Linked DNA regions of Homo sapiens: region 1 is reported to be linked to region 2. Evidence: microRNA targets listed by miRTarBase, many of them from high-throughput screens and not tested one by one. Region 2 holds a microRNA gene; the other region holds the end of a gene's coding sequence.
What was found. The annotated mature microRNA hsa-miR-3163 reads UAUAAAAUGAGGGCAGUAAGAC and lies in region 2 at 3,209-3,230, opposite strand. An mRNA with a match to its seed (bases 2 to 7 or 8) in the 3' UTR can be bound and repressed. Matches are read on the target gene's strand: a 7mer-m8 pairs with bases 2 to 8, a 7mer-A1 pairs with bases 2 to 7 and ends in A, and an 8mer does both.

Region 1: the mRNA of AVPI1 is a reported target of hsa-miR-3163. The part of its 3' UTR that is shown has no 7-base or 8-base seed match.

Annotation. Positions count from the first base shown.
Region 1 is chr10:97,673,226-97,678,295 of GRCh38, forward strand. AVPI1 (arginine vasopressin induced 1) reads right to left here. Exons shown (of 3, transcript NM_021732.3): 3 at 4,199-4,800. The coding sequence ends at 4,644. It overlaps PI4K2A (phosphatidylinositol 4-kinase type 2 alpha), which reads left to right. Exons shown (of 9, transcript NM_018425.4): 9 at 356-3,209. The coding sequence ends at 517. Among named protein-coding and RNA genes, the nearest start is that of AVPI1, 11 kb to the right of the region's middle. RefSeq lists enhancers at 2,553-3,052, 3,870-3,939.
Region 2 is chr11:66,931,268-66,936,339 of GRCh38, forward strand. It overlaps MIR3163 (microRNA 3163), which reads right to left and starts at 3,239; the gene lies at 3,167-3,239. The region is part of intron 3 of PC (pyruvate carboxylase); the gene reads right to left.

The sequences.
Region 1 (5,070 bases), not on the chromosome of region 2:
AGTGATCTACCTGCCTCAGCCTCCCAAAGTGCTGGGATTACAGGCGTGAGCCAGCGTGCCTGGCAAGTATTTATTTTTTTGAATTCTCCCCAACTCTGCGTCGTTCTTTTGTATCTTTACTAACTGGAGGGCAAAAAAATAAAGGATTTGTTTTCATTTGTATTTTTTAAATGATTAGAGAGGTTTCCATTTTCTGTTTTGCTAATTTTTACTTTTGTAAATGGCCTATTTGCATGATTTTCCATTGGTATTTTAAAAAATTGATTTGTAGGCGTCCTCTCTACTGATCTCCTTTCAGAGGCAGATCTGGAATGCTGAGGCCTCTCCCTCACCCATCTCCTTTTTCCCACTGCAGATCTTAAATCTGACCCAGGCCTTGAAAGACAACAAGAGTCCCCTGCACCTCGTCCAGATGCCACCTGTGATTGTCGAGACGGCCCGTTCCCACCAGCGGTCTTCTAGCGAGTCCTACACACAGAGCTTTCAGAGCCGGAAGCCCTTCTTTTCATGGTGGTAGCTCCAGAGGCAGGCAGAGGAAATATTGTCAGAGACTGGTGGGAGGAAGCCTGGGGAGTGGGGTGCAGGAAAAGCCAGAGAAGCCGGTGGAGAGCAGCACCTTTAAGAGCCCTCTCTCTCTGCTTGCCACCCTGCTCAGAGCTTTCCACCCACAGGGAGAAGCACAATCAGGAACAGTGAGTGCTCCTCGCCCTTCTGATGTGGGGGAGGCTGGAGCTCCATGCACGTAGTCCAGATGCCTGGGAAGGAACATCTCCCTTCCAGCATCTGCTGGTAGCAGGCTGGGACAGTCCCTTCCTTCCCTGAAACCCTGCTCTATTGCAATTCCCTATTATATTCTGCATCAGAAAAACAAACAAAACAAAAACAACTTTAAATGCTTGTAGCAGAACCCCGGGTCATCTCATGTCAGAAACCTTTAATCCAGGCCTAAATTTGCATAGACCTGACATTCAGCTGCCTTGCAGTTGCTTCCTCCCATGAGCCAAGGTGGTGTCAGAGGGCAACTGGATGACTCGCAGTACCACAGCACTGGGACAGACAGAAGCCACACCTTTCTTTTGGGTTTTTGCCAAGCCTCCTCCATCTCCCATCAGTGCTGTGGGCTGGCTGCAAGCCTCGAAACAGTTCTCCTGGAAGGGAGGTTTTTGCTTTACCCCCGCCAGCACTTCCGCACACAATCATAGAGAACCTCTCTGCTCTCTGCTGGCCTACAGCTTGTCTGTTTCTCAAGCAGAGGCAGGAAGAGCTAGTCTTAGCATTTATATTTTAATAGGAAGTTGACTCCCAGCATGTAAAAGTGATCCACGCAGCCGGAGTGTATGCCGGGAGCTAAGTGGTCTATGGGTGAACATATCCCACCTTGCTTCCTGAGTCCTTGGTCCCAATCTTCTCATTTGTTCCTCTCGTTTTAAATTTTTTCCCCCCAACTCTTTTGATGTAAGAGTTCAGTTTGTCTTCGGGAGTGGGTCTCTGCAAGGGCTCTGGGATGAGTCTTGGCTTCCAAGAGGACAGGCTATTAGGTTCTTGGACTTTTTTCTGTGCTACCGCTGCTGCTTGGTGGAAGTAACAGGACGTGGATTCTGCCTCATAAGTGGCAGTTTCCCTTTTCTCTCTGACTTGTCCTAGGCCGATTTCTCTATGGCTTCCCTGAGAAAGGTGAGGCCCAAAGGAGAGAGGCCTTCAAACTGTCCCAGGTCCTGCGCAGCTCAGTGCGTATCTTCTTGCTTCCATGTGTCTTTTCCCCTGCTGCCTCACTCCCCACCCCCACTTGCCAGGTGTTTGAGCCATTTCTACACCAAAGCAAAGTACGGCCTCAGGAGGGAGTAAAAAGGGTGCCATCTGTGTCTGGAGGGGCAGCTGTGTTCATGCCCTGTGCTACTGGACATTTCACAATTCTGGCACCTTGCGATTGGTCAGTCAACCTCAGAAAGTAACTATCTTGAAGGTTTGAAAAACAACCAAAGAAAGGGAGTGAGGACTATGGCTGCATGTCCTCTGCTTGCCCGGCTGCAGAGCAGAGATGTGCAGCCCTCTGGTCAGCTGGTCCAGGCTGGTCCCCGCCGGTCCCCTTCCAGTCCAGCCACCAAGAGTCCACTTGTCCCGGGCTTCCACCTGGCTGACAGGAAGAATTTCTGAGAGCTGGATGTGCATGCCCTGTGGACGAAGGTACAGCTCGCCTGCCTGCCCCAATCCCAGCCCCGACAATCACATGCAGCTGACTCGGACACTGGCCTTGGGAACAATGTTCGAGAGAACACTTGCCCCTTGACTGTAGGAGCCAGAAGGGGACCCAGGTGTGCATAGCTCTCTGTAGACATTTTTACCCAAACCTGTTGGTAAAGTGCCCATCTGGTGCTCAAGAGAGCCTGGGGGTCTAACAGGGAGCCCGGCTGCCTCACCTGGCCACAGCCTCCACACCAGATCTCCACATTGTCTTGATCCAGACCAGCTCTGTGATCAGAAGGAAATTGGGTCCAGTGTAGGAGAGAGCTGGTCCTGGGCCTGGCAGGCAAGAGTGTGGGCATCCTTTCCTGGCCTTTCTCCACTCTCCCTCAAGCCTGTGCTCAGGTTGCCTTGAATGTGGACTCTGGAAGAGCCAGGGGCCCAGAATGCCGGGGGAGGCTTCTGAGTGGCACTCATGGAACACCGTCCCTCTGCCAGCCATAGGCCCTGCCTCCAGTGTCAGGGAATGGAGGCTGGGCTGCGAGAGTGTTGCTGCCCCCTGTGTCATTCTTCTAATCCAATGTAGAAATTGTACGTAATGTATTTAAATCAACGCAAATGTATGAATAACAAATACAGTTCTGACCTTTTTTGTCCAGTTTCTTTGGGGGAAGGAAGACAAAGAAGGTAGGAACGGAATTTTGAGGGCAAAGAAACCTGTGTTTCCATGGAATTGCTGAGACGTGGCTCCTGGGGCTATTTCTCCCTAATAAAGGATGATCCAGGTCCTCATTTCCAAAGTCCCAATGCTCTGAAAACCAAAAGTATTTTCATAACCCATTTGAAACCAAACCTGACCTGAACTTACACTGATAGGAAGCTATGGGTAATTATGATGTGTTCCTTTTAGTGTGATTCTTTGTTGCAGAAATGTCAATATATTTTATGACATGGTTCCCTACTAGGGATTATACAGTATTTGCTGACTACTTCCTAAGAGCCAAAAATAAAAAATCTGAATTCCAAAATAATCTAGTGCCAAGGGCTTGGGATAAGAAATGTGGACCTACAGGCTGGGTGCAGTGACTCACACCAGTAATCCCAGCACTTTGGGAGGCTGAGGTGGGTGAATTGCTTGAGGTCAGGAGTTTGAGACCAGCCTGGCCAACATGGCGAAACCTCGTCTCTACTAAAAATACAAAAATTAGCTGGGTGTGGTGGCACACGCCTGTAATCCCAGCTACTTGGGAGGCTGAGGCAGGAGAATCACTTGAACCCGGGAGTTGGAGGTTGCACTGAGCCGAGATTGCACCACTGCATTCCAGCCTGGAGTAAGACTTTGTCTCTCAGTAAATAAAAATAAATAAATAAATAAATAAACAATAAAATAAAAAAGAGGACCTACCTGACTCAAGGTAGTAGTGGTTCCTCCTCTTGGCCACCAGAGGGCAGCCCTGCCCTGTGTACATCACTGCCCCACTTCAAACCCTGAATAATCAAGCATATAGGGTGGGTGGAGAGGGAGAAGAAAGCTAATAAGCACAGAGTATGCCTCTCTTGAGGTGGAGCCAGAACTGTGGGAAAAACCCTGCCTTCAAGGGTTTCCAGGCCATGGGAAGCCTAGGATATAACGCAGGCAACTTCAGAATCATCAGTCCACCTTGGGATGGTCAGCCCATAAGGATGAAGAAACCAAATGAGGATCTGGCACCACTAGTTTGACTACAGATTAAGCCAGCCCAAGGCCTCAGCCTACTGTGCTGGGCTGACCATGACAGTCTTCCCCCTTCTCCTGATCCTATGGATCAGGACTGCTGCAGAGACTCCCCTCTTTACTCCCGATCCAACAGACTCTGGAAAAGGAGGCTGTGGTCCAGGGGCTCAGCATGGGGGTGAAAAAGGAGAGGGAGGTGAAAAGGAGAGAGGAGGCCAGCCCTGATTTTTCCTTCCTGGGGACACTCTTGCCCCTCCCACTCTGTTTCATTTCCTCCCCTTCTGTGACAGACTCACACAGCTCTTGATGCAAATGTTTTTATTTGCCACTTAAACTACAGTTTCCCTGTGCTATCCTGATGGTGTGGGGGTGTGGAACAGGCTGCTGGAACCATGGTTTACAGTAGTAGCAGGTAGATGATTAGTAGCATGAGTGGTGAAATGCTGCATCTAAGTGCCTGTCACTTTGCTCCCAGGGGAATATCATGCAGCCCAGGAATAGTGTTAGACTGGGAAGGACTGTGGCAGGAACAGTCACTGTCTCTCCTCATTTTGGTGAGGAATGGGTCCCACATAATGGAGAGCTCAACAGAAGCATCCAGTCTTGTTCTGAATGGAGCAGGTCAGTGGCAGCAGCCTCTTGCTTTCATTTACCCCTTTGGGCTGCTTGCCTAAAGTCTCTCTTCCTTCACCTCCCCAGGCCTTTTGGCAAGAGGGAAGACACTGCCATTCCTGGCTCTTTCCCTGGATCAGTGTCTGATCTGGTGGAGGTAGCTTGTGGGGCCTGACTTCCTCCAGTTCCGGCGGATCCTGGCACTTTTCTTCCTAGAGTGCAGATACTGCTCACTGGAGGCTGTCTCTGTGGCACTCTGTGGGTTGGCCAGTGCAGAGTGGGGCTCCAGGATTCTGCAGAGAACAAGTGTATGATTAGCCAACATCAATAGGAAGAATGGAATGGGGACTTCAAGAGATTTCGTCATGGTGGACCATAAAACATATGATTTGGAGCAAAATGAGAGCGGGGCTCTGCTCTGGTCTTTCCCCCTCTGAGAACTGTCTGACTAGACAAAGTTTACAGATTTCTCTGCAGTAGAAAGGGTTGGACCAGATCAGGTTGTGCAAAACTCAACATTTCTTCATCCTCATCCTGTACTCATGGCAGATGTCATAAGTCAT
Region 2 (5,072 bases):
ACTCAGGAGGCTGAGGCAGGAGAATCACTTGAACCCAGGAGGCAGGGGTTGCAGTGGGCCGAGATGGCACCACTGCACTCCACCCTGGACAGCAGAGTGGCAAGATTCCATCTCAAGAAAAAAAAAAAAAAAAAAAAAAGGAATAGCTGAGGGAAGGGACTTCAACCGGGGAGGGAACATAGGGGGCTTATATGGTCCTAACCTTAACCTAGGGATGGGAACATAGATGTTCATTTTACTATTTTGTTTTAACATACTCATATGTTTTAAACATGTCTTCTGTTAAGTGTGGGATTTTGCAATAAACAAATGGCAAAATGAAGAAAAAAAAACATGCAATGGCACACAGAGTACTGCAGACTTTTTATTTGTGCTGACATCGGACGATTTCCAAGATACACTGATAAATGAAAAGGGCATGGAGCAGAAAGGGCACAGGAGAAACAAACAATAGATATATGTTTCTGTAGCCGGGCGCAGTGGCTCACGCCTGTAATCCCAGCACTTTGGGAGGCCAAGGCAGGTGGATCACAAGATCAGGAGATAGAGACCATCCTGGCTAACACGGTGAAACCCCATCTCTACTAAAAATACAAAAAACATTAGCCGGGCATAGTGGCAGTTGCCTGTAGTCCCAGCTACTCAGGAGGCTGAGGCAGGAGAATGGCGTGAACCCGGGAGGCGGAGCTTGCAGTGAGACAAGATCACGCCACTGCACTCCAGCCTGGGCGACAGAGCGAGACTCTGTCTCAAAAAAAAAAAAAAAAGAAAAAGAAAAAGAAAAAAGGAAATATGTTTCTATTTCAAAGGGCAGACCACCTCCAAGAGGACAGACAAGATAATTTAACCGGAAGTGGCCTCCTGGGAGGGGACTGGGTTACTGGGGAGAGAGGAAAAAGGAGACTCATACATTTCAATGTTTGTACAAGGTGCAAGTATTACATAGCTAAACTGAATACCTTTTTTTTTAAGTTAAACACTAACTCTTTGGATTACCGCTTGGTAACCTGCTAGAAGACTATTAGGTTCAACAGTAGCATCTCTGAGGAGTTACCTAGGTCATACCTGGGCTTCCTTGGCCCCATCAGTAACTGTTACATGAGACCTGTTTTCAGCATGGAAGGCACTCTACCATCTCAAATGATTTCAATGGGAGGGTAGAACTCCAGCCCATTCAAGCCCAGGGTTCCACAGAGACCCCTTGGTTGGACTCTGTCAATGACTAAACCCTTGGGCTTACGCTGCTGGGCTAGCTGATGTGGGACAAAAATCTCGCAGATGCAGTGGCCGAAATGTCCTTTCGGGGCCATAAATCTGCTAGGAATGGCTGCATTTGCCCTTTAGCCCAGAAGTATCCTTAATCTGGCCCTGGGGGGAAAGCCTCTTTAAACTGTGTGTTCTCTCCAGCTGGAGAAGCTAGCCATCGGGGAAAGAAAACTGATTCAGAACTGCAAAAGCAATAAAGAAAGAAGCCAGATACAGGACCAGACACAGATCTTTTCTTGGAAGGTAAATCATACCATCCCTTATCTTGTGAATTTAGTCTCAATTATGTCCCCTGTTGGCAGCAAATGCCCTGTCTTTTCTGCACACCAAAACCCATTCCAAAGTCCCAGCACCAGGAACTATGAATATCAAGAAGTAGTTGGGAGAAAAACAGAAACAAGTGTTCTTAATTCATATTTTGTGTCTGCTAGGAGAATCCTTCGTCTAAAATACCTCTTCCACCATGCACCTAAAAAATCCAACGGAAAACCTCAACCTCTTAACTCTAACACCTACAAATACTTTGTTTTGATCAGTGTAAATCTGTTTGCTAGGAGGCAGTTTCAGCTTCCACCTATCCCGCCCTGGAAGCAAGGCGAAAGCTCCAAGTACCCTGAAGGTGTCTCTCTCCTGACAGCTCTTCCAGAGGCCTCAGCCCTTCAGCCCAGGCTCACCAAGCAGTAGGCAGCCTACCACAGATGAGATGCAACTGTCTCACCCAGAAACCGTCAGATGAGGAGAAATGGGAGGCACTAAGAGGCAAGAACTGGGGAAAATCAGCTCAAGAATCTTCAGGCCCTACCAGCCCTTTCTCCTCTCTGGGTAACATTTTCTCCGGGTAAGTCTCAACGCTTATTGCTCTGGTCTCAAGCTATCTCAATTTTCTCAGGAAATGCTGAGTTGGGCTTAAAAGCCCACCATCCCGAAAGATGGTGCCCTGTCCCAATTCCCTATTTCTTTTCTATTTGTCTCTCCACTTTTCCCCGACCTCAGGTCTTGGAGTCAGCTCCCTTTAGCTAAATAAATGGGGTGGCTTTTTCCATCCTGCATTTCAAGATGAAGATTGAGCTGCAATTTAGAGCTCTCCAATCCCTCCCTCCACTTGGCCCCATGACAACTTTTCTTCTGTGACACTTTATATTTGCCACCTCCTTCCCATTGCAACCACTTCCCTAACCTCCACTTGCATCATTCCGGAATGTCTGAGTTACATTCCCTGCTGAGCTAGTCCCCACCCAACCTCTGCCTCTCCCCATTCCCAGGCAGCCACCCACTCCGCCCAGAGGTTTTCCAAAAATCCCATTCACCTCTGGGTAGTCCTGGCTCAAGCATCTCAGGGGCTTCTTATTGTCTCAAATCCCAACACGCAGCTGGGGTTCACAGAATGAACTTCCAGCCCTAATGCTCACTACGCCCCACCAGCACACTCCAACATTGCTTCCCAAGTGCTAGGCCCTGAGGATTCCACAGTGATCAATGCAGGCACAACCTCCACCCTTGCCGGCTTCCCACTGCCTTCCTCCACGCCAGCGAGGCTGGGGCATCACCCTCTGTCTCATCACCTGGCCTCACTCCCATTGCCACTGTCCGGGGGCACCCGCCTCCTACGAACTCAAATATCACACATGCGAGGACCAGCTCCTCCACCCACCTGAGAGAGTCCCCTCATCTTGCAGGGCCTCGGATTCACATATTCTACCCTCAAGGGGTTCACTTCTAACTGTTCATCACTGGTCCCATTAACAGAGCCACCATTACGGTGTGTCCAAGTGTCAGGCACATGACTGTGTGATTTCATTTGTTTATGTGTTATTTCATTTGTACAGAATGAACGTGTGTTATTTCATTTGTACAAAAGTTATTGCATTTGATCTCTACCCAACAGCCCCCACTGGTTGGTTTCCTCATCTATAAAATGGGGGTAGTAAGACAAGGAAGGAAGGTCTTACTGCCCTCATTTTATAGATGAGGAAACCAAGGCTTGAAGAAGCTAAGGAACTTGCTGATCAGGGCTAAGCCTGAACTCCATCCTGTCCGCCTGACTCCAGGGTCCATGCTCTCAACTCTGCTATGCCACTCCCCGGTAATTCCCTATGTGTGTTTTGTTTTTGTTTTTGAGATACAGTCTCACTCTGTTGCCCAGGCTGGGGTGCAATGGCACGATCTTGGCTCACTGCAACCTCTACCTCCTGGGTTCAAGTGATTTTCCTACCTCAGCCTCCCACCACACCCAGCTAATTTTTTGTATTTTAGTAGAGATGAGGTTTCACCATGTTGGTCAGGCTGGTCTCGAACTCTTGACCTCAGGTGATCCACCCGCCTCGGCCTCCCAAAGTGCTGGGATTACAGGTGTGAACAACCGCGCCCAGCCCCCTGTGTATGTTTATGCATTTAGCATCTCACCTGGCACAGAAGCAGGATCAATGAGGTCATTACTACTCTTCCACGCTAGCCAGTCACTATGCAAGCATGTATTTTGTCCAGCACGTGCATTCCCTCTCTCCCAACCACGGATAAACAACTCAGGGCAAGGCCACCTTGTCAGATCCTCCTGTGGCCTCACAGCATCCAGTAAGGAGCTGTGCATAGCACAGATGCACAGTAAATGCTGAAGGAAAGAACCATTTCTTGGAGTACTGCCCAGTAATAACTTGTCCTCCTTAAGCCACTCAGTCAACTGAGAAAACGCAGGATTAGAAAATGGGGCATTCATTCTGCTAGATACTGATTGCCACGTAAGAATATCAGAAGTATAAATGGACAGAAAGATGGCTCAGGTCAGCAAAAACACAAATAGCTATTTTGCAACCAGTTGGAATGGGGCAGTCAAAAGCCAGGAGGGCTGAAGAAAACCTTACAGTCTTACTGAAACAGCCTTGGGCAACATGGCAGGGAGAAGAGCCCTGCCTTAGATGGAGGTAGACTCCCAGTTGGCCACAAGCCATGCGACAACAAATGGCTCTTATGATAAAAGCTGCAAACGTCCATGAAGTGATAACTTCAGAAGGAAAGGGGAGGGTCTCAGGTTGGTCTTTTCAGCCCTGTGCACTGTAACACCCTGCCACACCATATTGCAACATCCTGTGGAACGGCAGCATATTCTGAGAACCTCAGGCCAGAATCTGGTTTGCTGCTGTCAGAGCTTGGCTATAACTCTTCCTAGTGAAGCTGAGAGAGACACTGAACCTCTCTGAACCTCGGGTCTGTCATCCATAAGCAGCAAAACCACAACCATAACCAGTTCCAGGGAAAACTGGTTGATAAAATAAAACTAGCCAAGTGCTGTAGCTCATGCCTGTAATCCCAGCACTTCAGGAGGCCGAGGCAGGAGGATCGCTTGAGCTCAGAAGTTTGAGACCAGCCTGGGCAACACAGTCTTTACAAAAAATACAAAAACTAGCCAGGCATGGTGGCACATGCCTGTAGTCCCAGCTACTCAGGAGGCTCAGGTGGGAGGATCATTTGAGCCTTGGAAGTTGAGGCTGCAGTGAGCTGTGATTGCACCACTGCACTCCAGCATGAGTGACAGAGTGAGACCCTGTCTCAAAAAAAAAAAAAAAAAAAATCAGCTGGGTGTGGTGGCACATGCCTGTAGTCTCAGCTACTTGGGAGGCTGAGGTGGGAGCATTGCTTGAGCCCAGGAGGTGGAGGCTACAGTGAGCTTGGATGGTGCCACTGTACTCCAGCCTCGTGACAGAGCAAGACCCTGTCACACACACACACAAAAAAAAGGTGGGGGGGGAGAGAAAAAAAGAAAAAAATGAAATAAAAAAACTATAAAGTGCTACACACACATAAGGGATATT